3 linked regions of the Homo sapiens genome follow. The protein of the gene in region 1 interacts with the protein of each later gene in a biochemical or structural test. Each region holds a gene or a part of one and is shown on either strand. Other genes may lie near its edges.

What was found. The genes of interacting proteins can lie anywhere in the genome.
Region 2: the proteins of LMNB1 (region 1) and URB2 form a complex in vitro, tested with the Homo sapiens proteins (one study listed by BioGRID).
Region 3: of the proteins of LMNB1 (region 1) and RNF123, one has a biochemical effect on the other in vitro, tested with the Homo sapiens proteins (one study listed by BioGRID).

The regions. Positions count from the first base shown.
Region 1 is NC_000005.10:126,815,128-126,822,151, reverse strand, and holds part of LMNB1 (lamin-B1), read right to left. Parts: intron 6,983-7,024; exon of another isoform or gene 6,905-6,982; intron 5,518-6,904; exon of another isoform or gene 3,231-5,517; coding exon 3,010-3,230; intron 1,243-3,009; coding exon 1,017-1,242; intron 1-1,016. UniProt on the Homo sapiens protein: Lamins are intermediate filament proteins that assemble into a filamentous meshwork, and which constitute the major components of the nuclear lamina, a fibrous layer on the nucleoplasmic side of the inner nuclear membrane.
Region 2 is NC_000001.11:229,643,223-229,650,246, forward strand, and holds part of URB2 (unhealthy ribosome biogenesis protein 2 homolog), read left to right. Parts: intron 1-310; coding exon 311-471; intron 472-2,636; coding exon 2,637-2,747; intron 2,748-4,287; coding exon 4,288-4,530; intron 4,531-7,024. UniProt on the Homo sapiens protein: Essential for hematopietic stem cell development through the regulation of p53/TP53 pathway.
Region 3 is NC_000003.12:49,699,533-49,706,556, reverse strand, and holds part of RNF123 (E3 ubiquitin-protein ligase RNF123), read right to left. Parts: coding exon 6,975-7,024; intron 6,890-6,974; coding exon 6,785-6,889; intron 6,331-6,784; coding exon 6,205-6,330; intron 6,086-6,204; coding exon 5,993-6,085; intron 5,922-5,992; coding exon 5,848-5,921; intron 5,067-5,847; coding exon 4,949-5,066; intron 4,747-4,948; coding exon 4,647-4,746; intron 4,475-4,646; coding exon 4,413-4,474; intron 4,224-4,412; coding exon 4,152-4,223; intron 3,925-4,151; coding exon 3,804-3,924; intron 3,131-3,803; coding exon 3,029-3,130; intron 1,908-3,028; coding exon 1,801-1,907; intron 1,574-1,800; coding exon 1,375-1,573; exon of another isoform or gene 1,371-1,374; intron 1,024-1,370; coding exon 878-1,023; intron 576-877; coding exon 492-575; intron 1-491. UniProt on the Homo sapiens protein: Catalytic subunit of the KPC complex that acts as E3 ubiquitin-protein ligase. Promotes the ubiquitination and proteasome-mediated degradation of CDKN1B which is the cyclin-dependent kinase inhibitor at the G0-G1 transition of the cell cycle.

The sequences.
Region 1 (7,024 bases):
TGCTTGCGTGCACCTGTAATCCCAGCTACTCAGGAGGCTGAGGCAGGAGAATCTCTTGAACCCAAGAGGTGGAGGAGCCAAGATCATGCCACTGCACTCCGACCTGGGCAACAGAGCAAGACTCAAAAAAAAAAAAAAGGCTACAAAGAGACCTTAGAGCCTATTCTCTTTAGCATTAAAACTGTTGGTGCTCATTAGTGCTCCTTCACTCATCCAAATTACATATTCATCCACATGCAAGATAGTTTTAATAACTGTGGTGAGAAAAGACTAATTTTCAAAACTACTTTTAGCAGGCCCTGAACATATGTTTCAAGATGTGACATCCATCCCACTGCCGCCTGCACGCTCCCAGACCATGCCTTCCTCTAGTATCATCTCACAACCCATCATGGCCTCCAGCTCCTTGATGCAGAGCTAGGGAAGGCCCACACTACAGAGCTCCCGAAAGCCCCAGCCCTAAATTTCAGAAATCTCTGCTATGAATACTTCATGTTTACTTTTAAACATATTTCAAAATAAGGCTTCATGCTATTTTTCATGTAAAGTATTAGCATTTGTTCATTCATTTATTTGCAGGGAAAAATATTCCCTTAATATCTGAGTCCAGGCTCTTATCTCCTTCTTTCAGTAAGCTTTTTATTAAGTTAATGACCGAAAGAATATCCACCATTTTCATCCAATTGCTCCAACTTCTTCACAAATTTGGCTAGGGCAGAGAATAATAATAACTCATCCTCAGAACCACTGTGATAAAAGGAACATGCTTTTCAAAAAAGCCCTGGCCCTCTAAAGAAGGGTTAATGAAGCAAATCTTTAAACTACTAAGGGTACCTAACTCTTCCTCCTCCTATTTTAATTTTTATTTTATTTTATGAATTTAAGTAAAAAGGACATAAACCCTTATTCCATGAAGACGTAATGAATCCAAACAAAAACTAAGGAGCTATGACAATTGCAAGAGAATCTAGCAATCCACAAAGCCTTGCTAGAAAAAAAAGGGTCTATTTTATTACCTGTTCAGAAGTGTTCTTCAAGCGGATAAATTTCCCATCAACATCAATTTCTTCGATGCAAACATTTCCAGTGGCTGAGGCGGAATGAGAGATGCTAACACTACTACTCGCCTCTGATTCTTCCACATCAACCCTCTTCCGCTTTCCTCTAGTTGTACGTACACTACGACTTGAGGATGCTCGGGATACTGTCACACGGGAAGAAGGGCTTGGAGACAGCTTCAACCTATATGGGAAAAATAAAACAATTCATTTTTAAAACACATATGCCCTTCTCGCCTTAAAAAAAAAAAAAACAAAAAAACAAGGGCTGGGCACAGAGGCTCATGTCTGTAACCCAACAGCACTTTGGGAGGCCAAGGCAGGTGGATTGCTTGAGGTCAGGAGTTCAAGATCAGCCTGACCAACATGGTGAAACCCCGTCTCTACTAAAAATACAAAAATTAGCCAGGCGTGGTGGTGGGCGCCTGTAATACTAGCTACTCAGGAGGCTGAGGCAGGAGAATGGCTTGAACCCGGGAGGCAGAGGCTGCAGTGAGCTGAGATCACACCACTGCACTCTAGCCTGGGTGACAGAGTGAAAACCTGTCTCAAAATAATAATAATAAGAAGAAGAATATCCCACCCATGCATTTCTAAAGCAAAATATTACTTACAATCTGTTAGCCAAAGCCAAAGTTTACCTTAACTAATGTAAACTTCTTCATAAGGTGCCCATCGTCAATTTTCTTTTTTAAAAAATAACAATCTGAATGTTTTCTCTAGGGATGGAAGTAATATAACCATAATGCAAGAAGTCTGGTAAATGGGTAGAAAGTCATCTGATCTACCACCACCCACCACAGCCACTGTTATAGTTGGTGTACTTTTTTCTCTTTTCGTACCTGTACTTTCTTATGATCACAACGGATATAATATTAAAATTATCTGGCTTTTTATCCTAAATCAGCCACTTTCCTTTTGGAACTTTTTTTTTCTTTTTCTTTTTTTTGTGAGACAGAGTTTCACTCTTGTCACCCAGGCTGGAGTGCAATGGCACAATCTTGGCTCACTGCAAACTCCACCTCCCAGGTTCAAGCAATTCTGTCTCAGCCTCCCAAGTAGCTGGGATTACAGGTGCCTGCCACCATGCCCAGCTAATTTTTGTATTTTCATTAGAGACGGAGTTTCACCATGTTGACCAGGCTGGTCTTGAACTCCTGACCTCATGTGATCCGCCTGCCTTGGCCTCCCAAAGTGCCGGGATTACAGGCATGAGGCAATGCACCTGGCCCTTTTGGAACTCTTTTCTGAGAACAGGTGTCAAAAATATTTATACATTGACCAGATTTAAAATATATATAAAGCCAGCCGGGCGTGGTGGCTCACACCTGTAATCCTAGCACTTTGGGAGGCTGAGGCGGGTGGGTCACTTGCAGTCAGGAGTTTGAGACCAGCCTGGCCAACATGGTGAAACCTCTTCTCTACTAAAAACAAAATTAGCCGGGTGTGGTGACACACGCCTGTAATCCCAGTTACTCAGGAGGCTGAGGTAGGCAAATCGCTTGAAACCAGGAGGTGAAGGTTGCAGTGAGCCGAGAATCACACCACTGCACTCTAGCCTGGGCAACAGGCTGAGACTCTGTCTCAAAAATAAATAAATAAATAAATAAATAAATAAATAAATAAATAAATAATATGTAAAGTCTCTTTCAGCCAGTTTGGCATTTTACAATATATTAAATCACCAAAACACTTAAAATCTCAAAGGAACTAATCCATCCTGATGCAGTTCAGCATTTAAAGTAATAATAATAAATAAACTAAGAGTACTTGAGCAACATTTTCTGCGATGAGGTAGAAATATGATCTATTACTACTTCTATACCTAGGTGTTCAAAGAAATGACCAAGAAAATAAAGTTCTTTTTAAAATGCTATTTATTTTTATTTCAATAAAAAGGGTGAGAGGCAAAAAGTGGACCATAAGGTAGGGTGACCCTTAAGTTCCTTACCTCTCTTCTTCGCCTTCTAAGAGTTTCCTGTAAGCACTGATTTCCATGTCCAGGGCTAACTTTACATCAAGAAGCTGTTCATAGTCATTCAGCTGTTGCTGCATTTGATCCCTTATTTCCGCCATCTCTCTCTCTTTGTCTGTCAGCATGCGACGAGAGTTGTCTTTTTCTTTAGCAAGCAAGTCCTCTAATTCTTGAATCCTTTCCAAACATGCTCTAGACTTAAGATGCAAGGAAACATATTTACTTTCTAGGAACATTCCAACATTAGCACCAGGCAGCTATTTTAAATCATTTCCTAGACTGGAAAACAGTACAACCCTATGGAATCTCTAACTCACTAGAATTCAAGAGATTTTAAGAAATTAAAACCCAAAATTCCTCAAATACAAAACACAGACCTCAGGATAGTTTTGGCTGATAAAAGAATAAAAGACATATTCCACAAATGTAAGTTCTGTAAATATACATATAATTTTTCTGTACTTAGCCAAAAAAATGTTAAGATGTGGTTTTGGTAAAAGTCAAGTCTGGCTCCCTTACAAAGCCTTTACTTCCAAAAGTATAAATTAAATAAAGAACTTAAAAAGATAAGAACACTGGGTGGGTGTGGTGGCTTACGCCTGTAATCCCAACACTTTGGGAGGCCGGGGCAGGTGGATCACCTGAGGTCAGGAGTTTGAGACCAGCCTGACTAACATGGCGAAACCCCGTCTCTACTAAAAATACAAAAAAAATTAGCAGGTTGTAGTGGTGGGCGCCTGTAATCCCAGCTACTTGGGAGGCTGAGGCAGGACAATCGCTTGAACCCCGGAGGCAGAGGTTGCAGTGAGCCAAGATCACGCCATTGCACTCCAACCTGGGCAACAGAGCGAGACTCTGTCTCAAAAAAAAAAAAAAAAAGATATAAACACTGACTGACAAAATAAACCTAAGAGTGGGTAAAAGTACGTTTTAGCAGACTGCTGAGGAATATTCAGAAACCAAGGCAAAGGGACTCTGGTTACTATGTGGAAGGCACTACCTAGTGTCCCTTTAGGATTGCTGGGCTATCTCATGTTCAGTTAGCACACAAAGGACACACAATATAGGGTGATTTGTAAAGTATTACTGTGAATATAGAAGCTGTATATTTGGCATAAAAAAATTAAAAATCACACATCCTACACCAGAAAGTTCATCTTAGAAACCTTGTGGCTCGCTGGGTAATTATTCTTCTGTGTTTCTCCATGACAGAATTCATCTCAGTAGCCTCAGAAAGTGACAACTCAAAAAGACTGATGGATAGCTTAGGCCCTCAGAATCACAAGTACCTGCAACAGAGCAGGAGAGAAAGGGCATCTAATGTGCAAAAACTAAATCTAGAAGGCTAGAGATAAAAAGGAGCTACCAAATACATAAAAACTGTACTCTTGCTGGTAAATTTACTTTTCACAGCAGTACAGGTTCAAAATTTTGAAACTGCTTTAACATATACTGGGGCTGAACAGATAAGTAAATGGATGATAAAAACCAGGTTTCTCACTCTGAGAGAGAAAAGATACAGGTATGTCAGAAAGGAAGCCAAAATTGAATGCTGTCCTACTAGATTCAAGTCAGAGACATCTGTATGAATTCATGTTTATCTTAACACAAATGATTAGACAGAAAAAGTTATAAATATGTGCATACACATGGGTTAGCATACATAAAATGTTACCCACTTTTATCGGTGAGAGGGCCAAGAAGCAGTGATACCCAGTACCAGTGAGCACACTCAGTGCCCAGATCTTAATTTCTATATACCATTCTCCAATAACAAGAACCAGGGCTCCTTGGAGACTGGATAATTCTAGGACTGGGGCAGGGAAAATGCAAGATGAGCCTAGAGCATGTTATAGTACCAGAAAGCAACAAAGTGCTCAAAAAACAATGGGACATAGTGGCCAAGCTGACAGAACTCCCAGTGGCCAAATATGAAACAATTTAAGCCAAAAAAGTAAATACTGCAGTATTAGCTTACAACCCAAAGTATAAAGTAAATGCCCATGGTCCATACGGACACAAACAAACAAACAAACAAACCAAACAAACGGGGAATGGATAAATCGTTACAGAAGAATGCCATTTAATAAATGTAGATTTCCCTCCAGAATGTGGCGCTTAAGTCCTGCCCTGTCCTTCACCCTTGAGGGTAGGCTGGACTTAGTGAGCTGTTTTCCATGAACAGTGTATGGGAACGGAAAAATAGTAGCGCTGTTGACAGTGGAGAAACCTGACAAACACTATCTTAAACCAAACACCACCAGTGATGTCATGTGGTTATCACATACGTGCAATCCCTGATACGATGTGACAAAACGGGCACTTAAAACCCAAAACCCCAGTCTAATCACGTGAAAAGCACCGGACAAATCCAAATTGGGGGACAGTCTACAGGATACCTGGACAATCTTACTCAAGACTCAAGCTCATAAAAAACAAGGAAAGCCCAAGAAACTGTCACAGACCAGGGGAGGCATGTGGCACCTGGAACAGAAAGAAGATAACAGAAGAACTGGTGAAATCCAAATAGTCTGGAGACGAGTTCACAGTAATATACCAATGTCAGTTTCTTAGTTTTGACAAATATACTATGGTAACATAAGATGCTAACAACAGGGGAAAATGGGTGAGAGGAAAACAAGAACTGTCTATAGTACTTTGCCAACTTTTCTGTAAATCTAAAATTATGCCAAAATAACAAGGTTATTTAAAAAATAATCAAGAGTCACTGTAAACCTATTTGGGGGCAGAGGGGGTGCCTGGTTCACACGCACACACAAAAATATATTTTTAAAGAAAAAAAATTGACCAATCAATTAATTAAATTCCAGAGTAGTATATGACTTGACATGCTATTTAGACAGGCACTCCTCTTAAGATGGATATTACAAAGGTAGTCCCTGAACCTCAGAGAACTTGCATTTAACTGCGTTTGCAAAAATCATGCTATAAATGGAGAAATCCATTTCCCCGCTACCATGTTCCTTGTATTTTCTTTTTCTCCAAAAGAAAAAAAAAAAGTCATGTAAGTTCAAAATGCCTCCCTTTATTTCATATATCAGAGGTAGAAGATATATTTGAATGGGCAAAAAGGTAGAATCTAAAGGAGAGTTGATGAGAGATATAAACTACCCAAGATTCACAGATAACCTGAGCCGAGATTTATAAACCCAATGATGTCTCTGTTTGACTGCCTTTGATGTTGTAGAGCTCTTTAAGAGGGAAAAATCAAAATCTAGGTATAAAAATTTTAAAGTTACTCTGAATCATTCTGTATTTTAAATAGAAATATTTAAATTCTATTTTCAGTAGCTGCACTTACACCTGTGTAGTGAAATATAAGGAACACAGTATGAGAAGTTAGACCTAGATTCTCCTTTCTAATTCTGCCATTGAAACTACCTATGAGGCTATAAGCAAGCTGTAACTAATCTCACTAAACCAGTTTCCACATAAGGAAAATGAAGAGCTCTAACTATCTAGATGATCTCTCAGATCTTGCCACTAACCCTAAATTTTATGACTTCTGATGATCTTGGGGTTTTTAAATATTTTATAGTATGTAATGTAATTGTACTGGTTTATTAAGGTCTAGCTGCAACCAAAGTCTCCAGAATCTGGGTGTTAGAAAAACAAAAGTTAGAGGTGTTTTTAAGTACCATACTGTACTCTTCTCTAAGGCAAGCAGACTCTAACCAACCAATTCATTTGGTCCCAAGTCAAAAATCTAGAGATGCTATAAGCAATGTAAAATTTCTAATTCCAAAACATAACACTGCTACCATCTATATATTATTTAAATATATCTTGTAAAACCAGTATTTTAAAGCCATGTCAATTTTAAGTAAAATTTAAGAAGTACTTCACTAACCTGAGTTATTTAACCAAAAGGAAATTCTTATGGCCTAATAGGCAGCATGATGAAACTGATATGACTCAGCAACAAACACTATTAAGACAAACAATAGGAAAATATTCAAAAAGATAACAT
Region 2 (7,024 bases), on another chromosome or scaffold:
CATTGTTCAAGGGTCAACCGCACAAAGCAATAATCACTGTCTTCTGTGGTTCAGGTTTACCTCCTAAGCATGGCTGTCGTCTTCTGTGTTTGTGTGTGTACACACAATGCACAGGCGTAGCTGTGCGTGTGAGAGCATGGCATCACAGTAACTACGTGTACCTGCTTTTTCCACCAGTGCTTATATCACCATGCCCCTAACTTGGTGATTTTTGATGGCGGCCACAGCTGTGCGCAGTTTCATCCTATGGCTACTTGGTAGTTTATTTCACCTGTCACATCTTAACAATTTTGGTTTCTTTCCCACACAGATCCTGAAATTCCTGTTCAGGTCACTCAGGATATTGAGCCTCATTTGGGAGCCTTGTTCACCCAAATGTTAGAGGTTGGGACGACAGAGGACTTGAGGCTGGTGATGCAGTGTATTCTCCAGGGACTGGATGTCAGTAACATGTGGAAAGCAGATGTGCAGGTGGGTGCCTTCTCCCTCCTTGTGTGGCAGGCTCAGAAACCACGTCGGCTCAAATGGGAAAACTGATTTGAGATGTGGTGTCACCCTTAAAACTAAACAAGTTCTAACTGGTAGAGACTCTAGGCAAAGGGGGAGGCTGTGAGAGGGAGCCCTGGCCTGTGGGACAGCCCAGGCTGCGGCATAGGGAGGCCTTAGTTTTCAAACGGGAAGTTTTTCAAATAACAAATGTGTTGTCTTATTACGTTAAATACTAAGTGTTACACATTCACAAAACTGATCCATAAAAAAGTTAAATTCTGCTCATTCTTTGCTGAAGACCTCTCACACCATACTTCTTGAAACATGTGGCCTGATTGGGCCATACTGCCTTCATGCCAGCATTTGAGAAGCACCTAGGTTAGCCTACCCCCTTCAGTTCTGACAGAAGTCGCTAATACAGCCTGCATGGTGTTGCATTTGCTGAGTGCCTTTGCACAGAGCTCACATGCTGGGATTTGTTTCTCTGAATGCCTGTGGGCACTGGACTGGTCAGACATCTCTTACGCAAGGAAGAAGGCCACAGGCCACAGAGCCAATGGTTGGTGGGGCAGAGAGTCCAGCCAAGGTCTCTGGTCTAGGCATATTCTGCCTCATGAATGGCTTATTGACTCCTGGTCATATACAGCACACTGGTATTGGGTACTGATTTGGGCAGGAGAGGAAACAAACCTAAATTTCTGTTTGGACCAGTTGGTCAGGAGACTTCCCGGAGGAAGTGAAACTCCAGCTGTGCACTGAAGAATGCAGGGGACTTGATTGGGGAGCAGAGGTGAGGGGAAGGGAGGCGTGCACCGTGCAGGCAGCGTGTTGGGCTGCCAGGAGCAGGGGATGTGCAAGAGTGAGAAGATGGACAGGGAGAAGTGGTGCCAGGGGGGCAGGCCCTGGTGGGGAGATAGCCTGTAGGTGGGCAGGAGAGTGGGAGTGGAGATGGGGCTTTGGGGTGTGCCTAGTCAGAGGGAGCAGGGAAGGGAAGAGAGTGAAAGGCAGAAGCCAGGACTTTGGCTAGGGTTGTGGGGTGGGCTGCACAGCATTCGGGGAGAAAGGGACGGTGTGAGGCTGAAATAGGAACTCACTGACAATGTGAAATGCCTGGCACTGGGTCTGTTTGTTCATATAGGCACCCCGTAAAGGTAGGGCTCTGCCCACATCTCATGGTTTAAAACCTTATTTTTCAAAGGGGAAGTTTTTCAAATTACAAATGTGTGGTCTTATTATGTAAAATACTAAGTATTACATATTCACAATACTGATATGTATAAAAGTTAAATTCTGGCCGGGTGCGGTGGCTCATGCCTGTAATCCCAGCACTTTGGGAGGCCAAGGTGGGTGGATTATATGAGGTCAGGAGTTCGAAACCACCTGGCCAACATAGTGAAACCCCGTCCCTGCTAAAAATACAAAAATTAGCTGGGCCTGGTGGTGGGTGGCTGTAATCCCAGCCACCTGGGAGGCTGAGGCAGGAGAATCGCTTGAGCCCAGGAGGTGGAGGTTGCAGTGAGCAGAGATCATGCCATTGCACTCCAAGCCTGGGTGACAGAGCGAGACTCGGTCTCGAAAAAAAAAAAAAAGTTAAATTCTGCTCACTCTGTGCTTAAGACCTCTCCCACCATATATTTTGAAACATGTGACCCGATTGGGTCATATTGCCCTCATGTCAGCATGTAGCACCCGTGACCACAGCACCTAATCCGATTGTTTTCACATTTTCCTCCAGCCCCTCCTATCTGTAAGCGTGCATCGTTGCTCAGTGAAGTAACAGCCAGTGTCCTCTGCGTGGACAGAGCCTTGACAAGACGGGCTCTCTGTAATTAGGTCACAGTGTGTGACCCTTTTGCAATTCACTGTCCTGGCCGATTTACGTGCTTGATTTAGTGAAATGCTGCTGAAAGACCCTGACTTTGCCCCAGCTCTGCTCATCTTCTTCACTTCCTTCCTGTCTGCATGCTGATGTGAAGGGTGTCCCTCCCAGGACTTAACCCCAAGCAGGCCTTGTCCACCTCCCCTGACACCAGGGCTCTCAATCCACTCCAACGCCACAGCCCCAGAGAGCAGTCTTCTTCCCCAGGCGGAGTTCTTAAGGGAGAACACGCTATCTCTGCCGCTAAGTTTTTTCTCTCTTGCCCCAGGCTGTTGTGTCAGCTGTTACACTGCTGAGGCTGCTACTGAACTGCCCACTCAGTGGAGAGAAAGCAAGTCTGTTGTGGCGTGCGTGTCCCCAGATAGTCACAGCTTTAACAGTGAGTACCCTCTGGAGATGTGTCCTCTAGCTCCTCCCCTCCCTCTTCCTGTAAAGACAGAAGTCAGCCTTTTGGGGTCTGCTGCCCTGTAGCTTTATGCAGAACGTGTGTGTGGGCTACTTCCAAAGGGCGGTGGTGAGCAGGATGCCGAGCTTGTGTGTCCTGCCTGAGCACATTGGTATCAACGGTTGGAGCAGTGGAAGGGAAGTGCTAACAAGGGACATTTAGTAGCACTGGGAAGCATCAGACAGGCAGTAAGAAGAGGGATGTAGTGATAAAGGGAGGCTATCGTGGAGGCCTGCTTAATTTTTAAAATTTTATGTTTTATTATTTTTTTAGAAATGGAGTCTCACTGTGTGGTCCAGGCTAAGGTGAAGTGGCTATTTGCAGTTGCAAATGTAGTGTTCTGCAGCCTCAAACTCCTGGCCTCAAGTGATCCTTCTGCCTTAGCCTCCCAAGTCACCAGGATTATAGGTGCATGCCACTGCAGCCAGCTTGTAGATGCCTATTTAATCAGATGATAAAAGAAGGAATTCTGGGGCTTTCTTTGTCCCCACAAAATGTTGTGGTTAGTTTAATGCACTCATTTATTTGTAGGAGTTGTATGTGTGTGTGTGTTTAAGGCCTATGATACAGTGAGAATAAAATGCTTTACAGGATGGGATAGTAATGTTGCAGATAGGAGTTTATTTTGTTACAGTCTTACTCAAATGTTAAAATTTGTGTCCAGTTGTTGCTAGGCTGTTTGTTTCACTAGAACAGTCTGGTTCAGATTGGGACTGCCTCCTGCCCTCTAAAAACCCTGACCTGGGTGTTCTTACACTTAGGTGCGAAGGAGCAGTATCTATTTTACCATCATACTCTGCCCTAATTCTAGCTGTTGCTACCTGAGACAATTGCCCTGGGTTAGCATGTTCCTGGGGCAAAAGGGTCTAAAAAACAGACTTAATATTCTCTCTTGTTTCCAATTTGGCTGCTTTGTCATTTTCCTGAGCATCCGTGTTGGTGGATGGCAGGGGTCATCGTCACCGAGCATGTGTGGTGAGCATCAGGAGAGGCACGTGACCCATGCTGACGGGCAGGGACAGTGTTGATGATGCGTGTGGTAGGCCCTCACTGATAAGAACACTGGGCTAGAATCCACTTACGTCCACCCAGAGGGTGTAGCAGGGGTCCGCACAGCCAGAATACCCAGCAGAACAGTGAGCATTGTGAGAGACAGGACCCAAAAGGCCTCACCAGGGCTGCTGTGTATCTGAGAAGGAGGGTCACAGGTGAGCTGTCCCAGGTTACTTAGGTAAGACTTTGAGCTGTCCTTCCTCTTGGGTCTGTTCTCTTTATATTCTAGATCATGAATTGAATATCTTTCACTAGAGCTGATCTGTAAGAAGTTTAGCAAATAGTATTTAACGGCCCACGGACCACATCAATTCATTTTGGAGCACAGACATTTCTACCTCAGTCACTCAGAGCTGCAGTGTTTGTGTTATTTCCTTGGGGAATTACTTTCATTTTTCCTTTATTTTATTTTGCCCTTTAGCTCTTAAACCGAGAAGCTTCTCAGGAGCAGCCTGTGTCCCTCACAGTGGTCGGGCCTGTCTTAGATGTCCTGGCTGCACTGCTGCGGCAGGGGGAGGAGGCCATCGGCAACCCCCACCACGTCAGCCTGGCCTTCAGCATCCTTCTCACTGTCCCTTTGGACCATCTGAAGCCGCTGGAGTATGGAAGCGTCTTCCCGAGGCTGCACAACGTGCTCTTCTCAATCCTGCAGTGTCACCCTAAGGTGAGAAGGAGGGTGAGAGTGGCAGGCAGCTTTTCCTCTGCGAGCAGGGTACTTGAAGTCTGTAGAAAAGTGGCAGCAAAACTTTACTGTTGCAGGATAATAATACAAATAACGATTTGCTAGGCAAACTTTCTGTTCTAGTAAATTTCAGAGCCAGGTGGTTTCTCAAGCATAAAAATGCTCGACCTTCATACTGGGTTTGTGAGCGAGTTTTTCTTCATTGGATCTGGTGCTATGAATAGTGTTTGTATACTACAGGTTGAACACTTCTAATCCAAAATGCTCCAAAGCTCGAAACTTTTAGAGTGCTGACATCATGCTACCAGTGGAAAATCCCACTCCTGACCTCATGTGACTGGTCGCAGTCAAAACACAGTCAAAACTTTGTTTCATGCAAAAAATTATTTAAAATTATTGCATAAAGTTACCTTCAGCTATGTGTATAAACTATATAAAGTGAAACATAAATGAACTTTTAAATTATATTTAGATGGGTCCCATCTCCAAGATATCTCATTGTATATATGCAAATATTCCGAAATCTGAAATCTGAAACACTTCTGGTCCCAAAGCTTTAGGATAAGGCATACACAATCTATACTATTTAAGGAAGCTCATTAAAAATTACTCTGTTTTTGCTCACCACGTCTTTAAATAAGCCACTCGCATAGATCCCTTGCTGGGCTTATAATTCAAATGGATATAGGGAATGAAGCATCCTGAGTTCCAGTTTTATAGTATGCTCCTTTTTAAGTTAAACTGAAACTAGGGATAAATGTCCCACAGAAAAAATTACAGTTCAGTTAACATTTATTGAACATTTGATGTGTTCCACCCCTATAGCAAGCCTGTGAAGGAGGCAGTAATCCCATTTTATTGATGAGTAAACTGAGGCTCAGTGCCGCCAAATAATTTGACCAGTGTCACTTAGCTGAGTCTAAACCTTAGACTCAAGACTTGTTATCTTTGACCAGTGTTCTTTTCATGGTGCCACCACTGTATGTGTGGCTGACTATGTATGTAGGAACTCATAGATACGACGGTTAATGCATCGCTTAATGACAGAGACTTGTTCTGAGAAATGTGTCGTTAGGCATTTTTGTTGTGCAAACACCATAGATCGTATAATACTTTCACAAACCCAGATGGTACAGAGTACTGCACACCTAGGCTATGGGGTATAGCCTGTTGCTTCTGGGCTAGAAACCTACAAACCTGTACAACATGTGACTAATGAATCCTGTAGACAGTTGTAACACAATGGTAAGTATTTGTGCATTTAAACAGAGAAAAGTTCCATTAAAAATACAATCTTATAATCTTATAGGACCACTGTTGTTTATACAGTATGCCTTTGACCAGAGTATTGTTTTGTAGTGCATGGCTGTGTGTCATATATTCATGCACATTCAGATACTTTTAAGTGTTTTGATGTCCTAAGGATAGAGACCTGCCAGCAATGCAGTTTTTAAGAAAAATATTCTCTGGTAAGCTAAACACTCATGACATTGGTTCTAACTCTAAAGCCTTCCCCTGTTAACAATTGCCTTTGACCCTATTTATCTTGTCAGCATCTTTGTTTTAAAATCTCTCTGCTGATGTTAGATTTGTATGTAACTGTACAATATAAATGCAATGCACATAAATTACAAACTGAAATTACAGGTGCAGGATTTCATGAAGTTGATGAAAGTAATACTAGAAAGCAGCTTGATTCTTCTGCAAAACCATTAGCAAATGACCATTTAGTGGAATTAGATCATTTAACGAATGGAGAAAATTGACAAGGATAATGACATGGTATTACAGTAAAGAATGATGTGAATTAATCATAGCTCACTCTCATCTGTTGGGGTTGTGTAGGGAATCTGATGGATGATCACAGCATCAACAGTGTGCATGGTAGGCCCACACTGATGTAAACACGCAGCCAGAATCCTCTTAGGTGCATCTAAAGGGTATGGTAAGAAGTCAGCACAGCCAGCATACCCAGCAGAATGATCAGCAGCTAGTGCTGTTCCAAGCACTTTACATGGCTTAGCTTGTTCAATCCTCATGACAACCTATCATCCTCATTTTGCAGATGAGGAAACTGAGGTGCACACATACAAAGAAAAGCTAGATGATTTGTTCAAGATCATAAGGAGCCAGAGTGTGAACCCAGATAGTTCCAAAAGGATTTGTGTGCTTTTCATCAGTATGATAGCAAAGGATTAAGAGAGGGTCCTTGGGGAACTGGGTGAAACGCTGGAATACTTTTGCAAAAACGACTTCTTTCTGAATATGCTGCAAAAAGTCAGTAATTTGACATGACGAATGTGGTATTATGCTATCAAAAATTTTGTTGGACAGATTATGCCAAAGAGAATAATCCCGACACTTGACTTACTCTCTGTTCACTCTCACACGTGATGCAGCACTGTCCAGCAGTGGTCAGCAGTGGTGGGTGTGTGCTGTGTCTCCATCGTCCAGTATGGTCACCACTGGCCACAGC
Region 3 (7,024 bases), on another chromosome or scaffold:
GAGCCGCTGGCCAGAGCACCCAGGGACCTGATGCCAGAACCGCTGCTCCCCCAGCTGCCAGACCCAGGGATCTGCTGACAGGTCGGGGTGGGTGGGGGCTGTCAGGGAAGCTCAGCCTGGACACACTGGGCCCCACCTTCCTGGGCTAGGGCAGCTACAGCAGAGGGCTCCGGAGGGTGCAGTGGAGCCAGGCCCTGCTTCCTGCTGACTCTGCAAGTGGCCGAGGAAGCACTCAGGGTCAATGAATAATTGATGAGGAGAGTGGGTGTGCTTCAGCACTTATTGGGCCCAGGGGGTGGGGGGCACCTAGGCACAGGCCACACTGGTGATGGGTGCCAGGCCTTGCTGCCAGCCCCACTCTCACTGGCGTGCTATGGCCAGGGCTAGAGTGGGGATGAGAACTGCCAGGGCAGCCCCCAGAACCAGACTTCATCTGTGGTTACCTGTACGAGTAAGCAAGCTGCCCCTCACCAAGACTATGTGGGCCTTACCCTCTTGGGGCACCGGCGGAGCTTGTCCTCTGTGTCCCTCAGAGCCATAGCGTATTCATTGACATCATCGGAGACACCCACCATCTACACAGCATGGGACCACATGTCCAGAGTGCCCCTTGGGCACTTCATCCAGGCTTCTTCAGACCCAGTCTGGACCCCAGCCCTGCCAAGGTCCCAACCTTAGGCCCAGGGCGGTCCCATTCCCACAACAGTCAGCAGGTCAGACTGAGGCAGCAGGAGCAGAAACCAGCCTCGCTGAGGCATGTGCTCCCATGCACGGTCTTGAACAGGCAGCCCTGCGGGCCCATGTGCACACAGGAATACACACACAACCAAACACGCACAACACCCGCCACCCAATGCGGGGTCCAAGAGTGCACGACCTTGCCCAGCTGCTGGTGTACGCTGAGGTTGTACATCATGACCGCCCCATCCAGGACTTCCAGCAGCGAGTTCTCGGTGAGGGGCTGCTCAGGCTCCTCGGGGGGCCGCCCCAGCAGCAAGCCCTCATTCCAGTGGCTGCCTTCAACTGGGGAGTTGGGGAGGGAAGGGTCAAGGGTAGGGCCATCCCGGCTCTCCTGAGCCTGCCTCACAGCAGGAGAGGAAATCATCTCTCCCATTCCTGTGCCCAAGGAGGGACCCGCGGGGAGCCCATGGGGGCATGGGGGTAGGGGTGGAGTGCAGGGCAAGGCCTGCGGTGCCAGGACCTATTTCTGCGGCATTGATCTCCTGCCCTCGGAGTGTGCTTCCTGCACTCCTGGGATGCTGCCAGGCCACAGGGCTGGGAGGGCATGGGGTGTATTTTGGCTTTGCCCGGATCGGGGACTGTACACTGTGGAAGGGTCCTTCGGGGACCTGCCTGACCCCACCAAGCACCTACTGTCCTCACGGGTCCTCTGCTCCACGCTCAGCGTGCGGACCTTCACTTTCTCCGAGGTGCTCAGAGGCCGCCGTGGGGTCATGAGGCTCACAGCCGCTGTGCTGAGGAAGCGGTTGGCTCGGCCCAAAGTTGGAGAACTGAGCCAGCCGGGCCGGGGCAGGGGCAGTGGCCCCCCAACAGCCAGGGCCTGCATGGGGCGCTGCAGTGAAGAAAGGCGGCCAGGACCAGGGCTGGCTCAGGGTTCCCTTGGCCCACGGGGCTGCAGAATTGTGAGGGAGGGTCCATGCCTCCACCCACAGCAAGGCACCAGCCCAGTGAGAAACCCTTTGCCTGCATGGAGCGGGAAGTGGCCCTGGATGAGACCCCTGCCCATAAGATACAGGATAAGCCCAACACAAATCCCACCGCCTGCCCCCACTGCGGCACCTGGGCCATAGCTGGGGCTGGCTCCTCATCCTCATCTAGGTCATCCATGGCGGTTGACTGGAGCTCCAGTGGGTCGATCACAATGTTGGCTTTGGAAGCAAGGTCATCTGGGAGGAAGAGCAGGAGGGTTCTCAGGCCAGTGGTGGCGCAAGGGGCCACAGTGGAAGTGCCCAGGACGGTGAGAGAGCCCAGCACACTGGGCAGGAGGCCTTGCAGAGCCCGGTTTAGCACCGTATCTGCCCCTCGCCCCTCCGCCTCCTCCACCCAGCCTTCACTCTGCATCTCAAGGGCCCCGTCTAGCTGCCACTCAGTAACAGGAGGCCTTCCCCATCACACCCTTCTTTTTCATTTATTTTCAAATTGACTTTCTTTATTCTACATAGATGTAAGCCCATCATGCCCTTCCTGCTGGTCCCTGGCTTTGTTTCCCAGGACTTCCTGCTCTCCAGGGCCTCCCCCACTCTCTGACTACTCCATAAACAAAAGGAGATGCCAGGGCTGCTTCATTCTGGGCACTCCCAGTGGGAGCCAAGCCTCATCCCAGGCTCATCCCCACCACCGTGCTGACAACTGACCCCGCCTTCGCTGCCCCCCGCCCAGGCCTTGCTCCCCGCTAAACGCGCTGTGTCCAAACAGAATTTCTCATCTCCACCACCTCCTGCAGCCCCTCTCCCTGATGGCACCCCATCCACACAACCTCTGGCAGGAAGCCTGGGGTCATCCTGACTCCTCTCCTCCACCTGTGCCCTCCCCTACCTACCTGGGCAGGCCCTTATCTCCTGTGTGGGGACACCTGGGCTCCCTGTCTCTCAGCCCCTGCACTCCGGCGTATACACTGCGGCAGCCAGAGAGAGGTTCTGACAGCACAGACCCACCCTTGTGCCCGGCTCAGGGCCTTGCTCTCGCTGTGCCCTCAGCCCTGCACCGGGGCAGCTTGTGCTCATCCCTGAAGGCAGCTCCGGCAGCACCTGCACGCCCCATCCACACCTCACCAAGATCCCTGGTCCCCTGCCAGGCACGCCCGACCCCTATGGCGTGGGTGCTGGCGGGAAAGAGAAGCTGCCCAGATGTAGGGCAGGCAGATCAGTGTCTCCCTGCCTGAGTGGGTGGAAAGACTTGGGCACCCTCTGGTGGCCATAGGATGGCTCAGCATCCACAGCAGAGCAGGCTCAGGGACAGTCCCCCACCTGGCCCCAGAACTGCTCCCGGCCCACAGGCCTGTACACACCTTTGAGGGTCTTCCGCAGGTGCGAGAGGAGGCCCCCCAGGCGCTGCAGGTCAAAGTAGTCCACCTTGCCATTATAGAAGACCTGGGGCGGGATGTAGGCCTCTGCGAGGAATTGAGGAGGCTAGGCCAGTGGTCACGGCCCAGTAGGAAGACCCTCCCCACAGCCCTCCCCTCCAATCTGGCCTAGCACAGCCTGGGAATTCTGGCTTTGGCCACTCACCCATCCAGGCAGACAGAGAAACTGTCTCCTGGACCAAGAAACAGACCTCCCCTACCTCTTCTCCACCCCTGCCATTTCAGGTCAGAGCCAGCAGCTGCATAACTTGGGGTGATGGGGGTACTCATGGCAGCCGTTCACTCAGGAGAAGCAGAGAGGCCCAGCCCCAGTCCTGTGGGATATCCCCCAATCCAGGGCAGGTAAGGCTCCCACTGACCCTTGGGGACTCAAACACAGGGCCCCCCAGCACCCACCCAAGGCAGCCCTATAAAGGACGCACAGAGAAATGGGGGGGCAAGGACGGAAGAAAAGAGCCCACAATGGTAGGAGCCCGTGGGACAATCAGAGCAAACACAGGATCGGCAGGCCTGCGGTGCAGGGCTCCTGCTGCCCCAGTGGAGAAGCCGCCTGTGGCTGGGTAGGACTCAACCAGGCAGGATGCCGGGGACAACTCCCCACAGCCCACAGCCTCAGCTCAGCACTCTGCACTAACATTAGGGGCTGCCCTACGCCTGGCTCTGTCCAGCCTCACTGACCTGGGACCCCGGTGCCACTCACCCTCACTGAAGGAAGCATGAGGATTGGAAGCCTTGTATTCATCCCAATAGTAGCGCAGGGCAGAGATCAGCCGGTGTAAGAAGCAGACCATGTACTCAGGGGGGCAGAGCATGGGCATGTTCTGTGGACACCAGGCATGAAACATGCATTGGTGCCAGTCCAGTGCCTTGCCCATTCCTCATCCAAGGCCCTGCCTGAGGGTCGAGGGTTAAGCAGGGAGGGAAAAGCAGCAGAGAAAAGCTTGGGGCTAGGCAGGGATGAGGCAGTCCGAGAAGTGCCAGGTGCTGAGGGCATGGCATGTGTAGTGCAGCCGGGGATCCACAGTGGGCTGGCCTGGAGGACACCTACCCCCCGGCCACTGGCGTTCTCCTGCAGAAACTTGCGAAACTTGGTCAGGAAGATATACCTAGAAGCTTCACCCTTTGAGAGAGGGAAAAGTGAGGCTGTGCTGAGCTGAGAATGCAGGCCCAGACTGGGCTGGCTCAGTGCTGCACCTTCCCCCAGCCCCTGCCATGGGAACCAAACCCAGTTCCCACCCTCTGGGTCTTAAGGCCCAGTGCAGCATCCCTCCCCACAGGGCCCCACCCAGGGCTCCTGGGAGTCACTCACCCCATTGTCATCTTTATTGTCCAGCAGCAGCTTCAGGATCTGGACCTGTAGTTCTTCCACCACTGGAGGTCAGGTGAGGAACATGGCCCTCAGGCTCCAGGAGATGGGGGGCAGGTTTGGGCCAGGGCTCCACCACCAGGGTTCCCCAAGTCCCACCTAGACATGGGCACCTCCAAGCACCCTCATGTGCACACACACACCTCCCACCCTACCCCGTGCCCAAGGCGGGCTGACCTTCGATGCGCTTCCTGAGCCGCTGACAGCCCCGTTCGTAGGCTCGCCGCCGCAGCCGCTCCTCTGCGGTCTCCTCCTTCATCTCCGTGCTCTCTTTGCCCTAGGCAGGGGTAGCAGGTGGAATACAGCAGGGTCACCTGGGACCTAGCCAGGCCTCCTTCACTCAGAACACCCACACTCCATCTCCAGGGCTTCAGGGACCAGGGCCAGTGAAAAGGCCTCATGCTAGATGCCCAGTGGCCAGATGCCCAGGCCAGGGGCCTTGCCATGACCTCTGCCCATCCCACTTGGGGTGCACTCACCTCCCTACTGGAGCAGTGGGGCCACCAGGTGGTGGGAATGAGCTCCTGCAGGCCGGCCTCCTCCACACGCAGGGGGCTCTTGATGTAAAAGAAGACGACGGAGCGGAGCACGTCGAAGCTGGCGGGTGTCAAGGCAGGGCTCTGCTTGCCAAAGGGCACTCTGCACACCCTCAAGAGTCCTTCCCCAGGAGCCCATCCCTGGATGTGCCTACCACAGCTCTCCCACCACCACAGGGGCATGTTGCTGCTATGTGTCTGACCCCCAGGGCATGCTCCCTGACAAAAAGCTGTGGTGGTTAAGCCCACCAGCTCCAGTACCCAGCAGGTGCACGATAAGGGCTTGTCACAGGAACAGATGACTGTGGGACAAGCTGGAGAGAGGGACTGGTGGCCTTTTCTCAGGCCCCAACTCTGACCTCTGTGTCTCCCAGCTTTGTGTCTGCCTCCTGGAGGCTGGAAGACCCCAGACCAAGAAAACGGCTACAAGCTGAGGCTTCCCAGCCAGGGGCTCAAAGCTATGCTCTCACTCACTCATGCAGTTCCCAACAATTCTGGGAAGCAGGAAGAGCTGCCTCCTTAAAGATCTTGCAGGAATCCCCACTGTGGAACATGAACAAAAGTGCTGGGCTGTGGCCGAAGAGGGCAGGCCCTGTGGCCCCTCCCACACCTCTGCGTAGCCCGAGTCTGCAGTCATTCAGAACCCCCTGGCTAGGCTGGCTGGCCAGGCTCAGTCCTTTGCTCTCTCGTCCTTGCTCTGTAGAGAAAATGCCACGTTGGGCAGCTCTGGTCCTCCTGATGCTCCCAGGGGACCCCTGGCCTGATGACACTCCCCTTCCTGGCCTCTGCTGAGTCCAGAGGGCACCCCATGTCTGGCCTGCCAGGCAGCAAGGAAAGGATACAGGACATTGCTAAGCAGAAACTTGCGGGACTTCTCATGCCTCAGGATGGCGATAGTGAGCCGCAGGTAATGGATCTGTGGAGAGGGGGCGTTCAGAGTGGACAGGCGAGTCCCAGGGGGCTCAGGGCAGGGGTAGGGGCTCCCACCTGTAGGCCCAGGTCTGGGACAATGGGTGAGAATCGGTACAGCCGAAGCAGAGACATCATCAACTGCTTGAGGCAATCTTGTACCTCGTAGTCCTGGGGGAAGAGATGCCAAGGCAGCCATGACTGGGGCCTTTTCCAAGATTCTCCCCGTATCTTCCCGACCCCAGTGAAGACTGACAGCCAGGCCTGAGGCCTGAGGTCAGGAGCCTCACCTCCATGAAGAGCCACAAGAGGTCCAGGACCTGGTGCACCACGGACTGTGCCTGTGTGGGTGTGCCCTTCTCCACGATGCCCAGCAAGAAGCTCATGAGCACAGCCTCCACCAGATACACCTTGCGCTGCACCAAGGCCAGGCACTGGTGAGGTGGTGGCCTTCCACTCTGGTCAAGGCACCCCTGCCCTGGCACATGGCCAAGGCACAAGCCTCAGGCACAGAGCCTTGAGCCACTCGAGCAACACCAAACATAGATGACCCCTTCCGGGGTCTGACTGAGGGACAAGAAGGCCATTGCCCCACGGCTCCTCTAAGGCTTGGCACACGCAGTTTCCTTGGCCTGGGATGTTATTATCCTTCAGTCTTCTTTCCAGGACATCCCCTGATGCCCTTGGTTGGCAATGTCCCTGTTTCCCTAGGGGACTGACTGAGGTCTGAGGGCCCTGGTCACATGGGGCCCTCGCCAGGTGATGCTGTGGGACCTCAGCACTGCAGCCCTCAGTGAGGGCACATCTACCACGGGCGTGTCTAGCATGGCCTGTCTCCTCCCCTCCCATGCCCCTCCCAATGCCGCTCACCAGAAGCGGTGCAAAGTGATGGAAGATGTGGGCCAGTGTGAGGAGGACGGTGGGCTGGCCCCGCAACCGCCACTTGGAGCTCTCCTTGTCCAACAGCCGCCCCTCCTGTGTGGAGGGGGAGGAGGGAGAAGTGTGAGGGGCAGGAGGCTGTGGAAGCCCCCCACCCCGCCTGGCCCAGACCCCAGCTCACCACAGGGTCCAGCTCCACACTCAGCACTGCCCGGAAGCAGCCCAGCAACC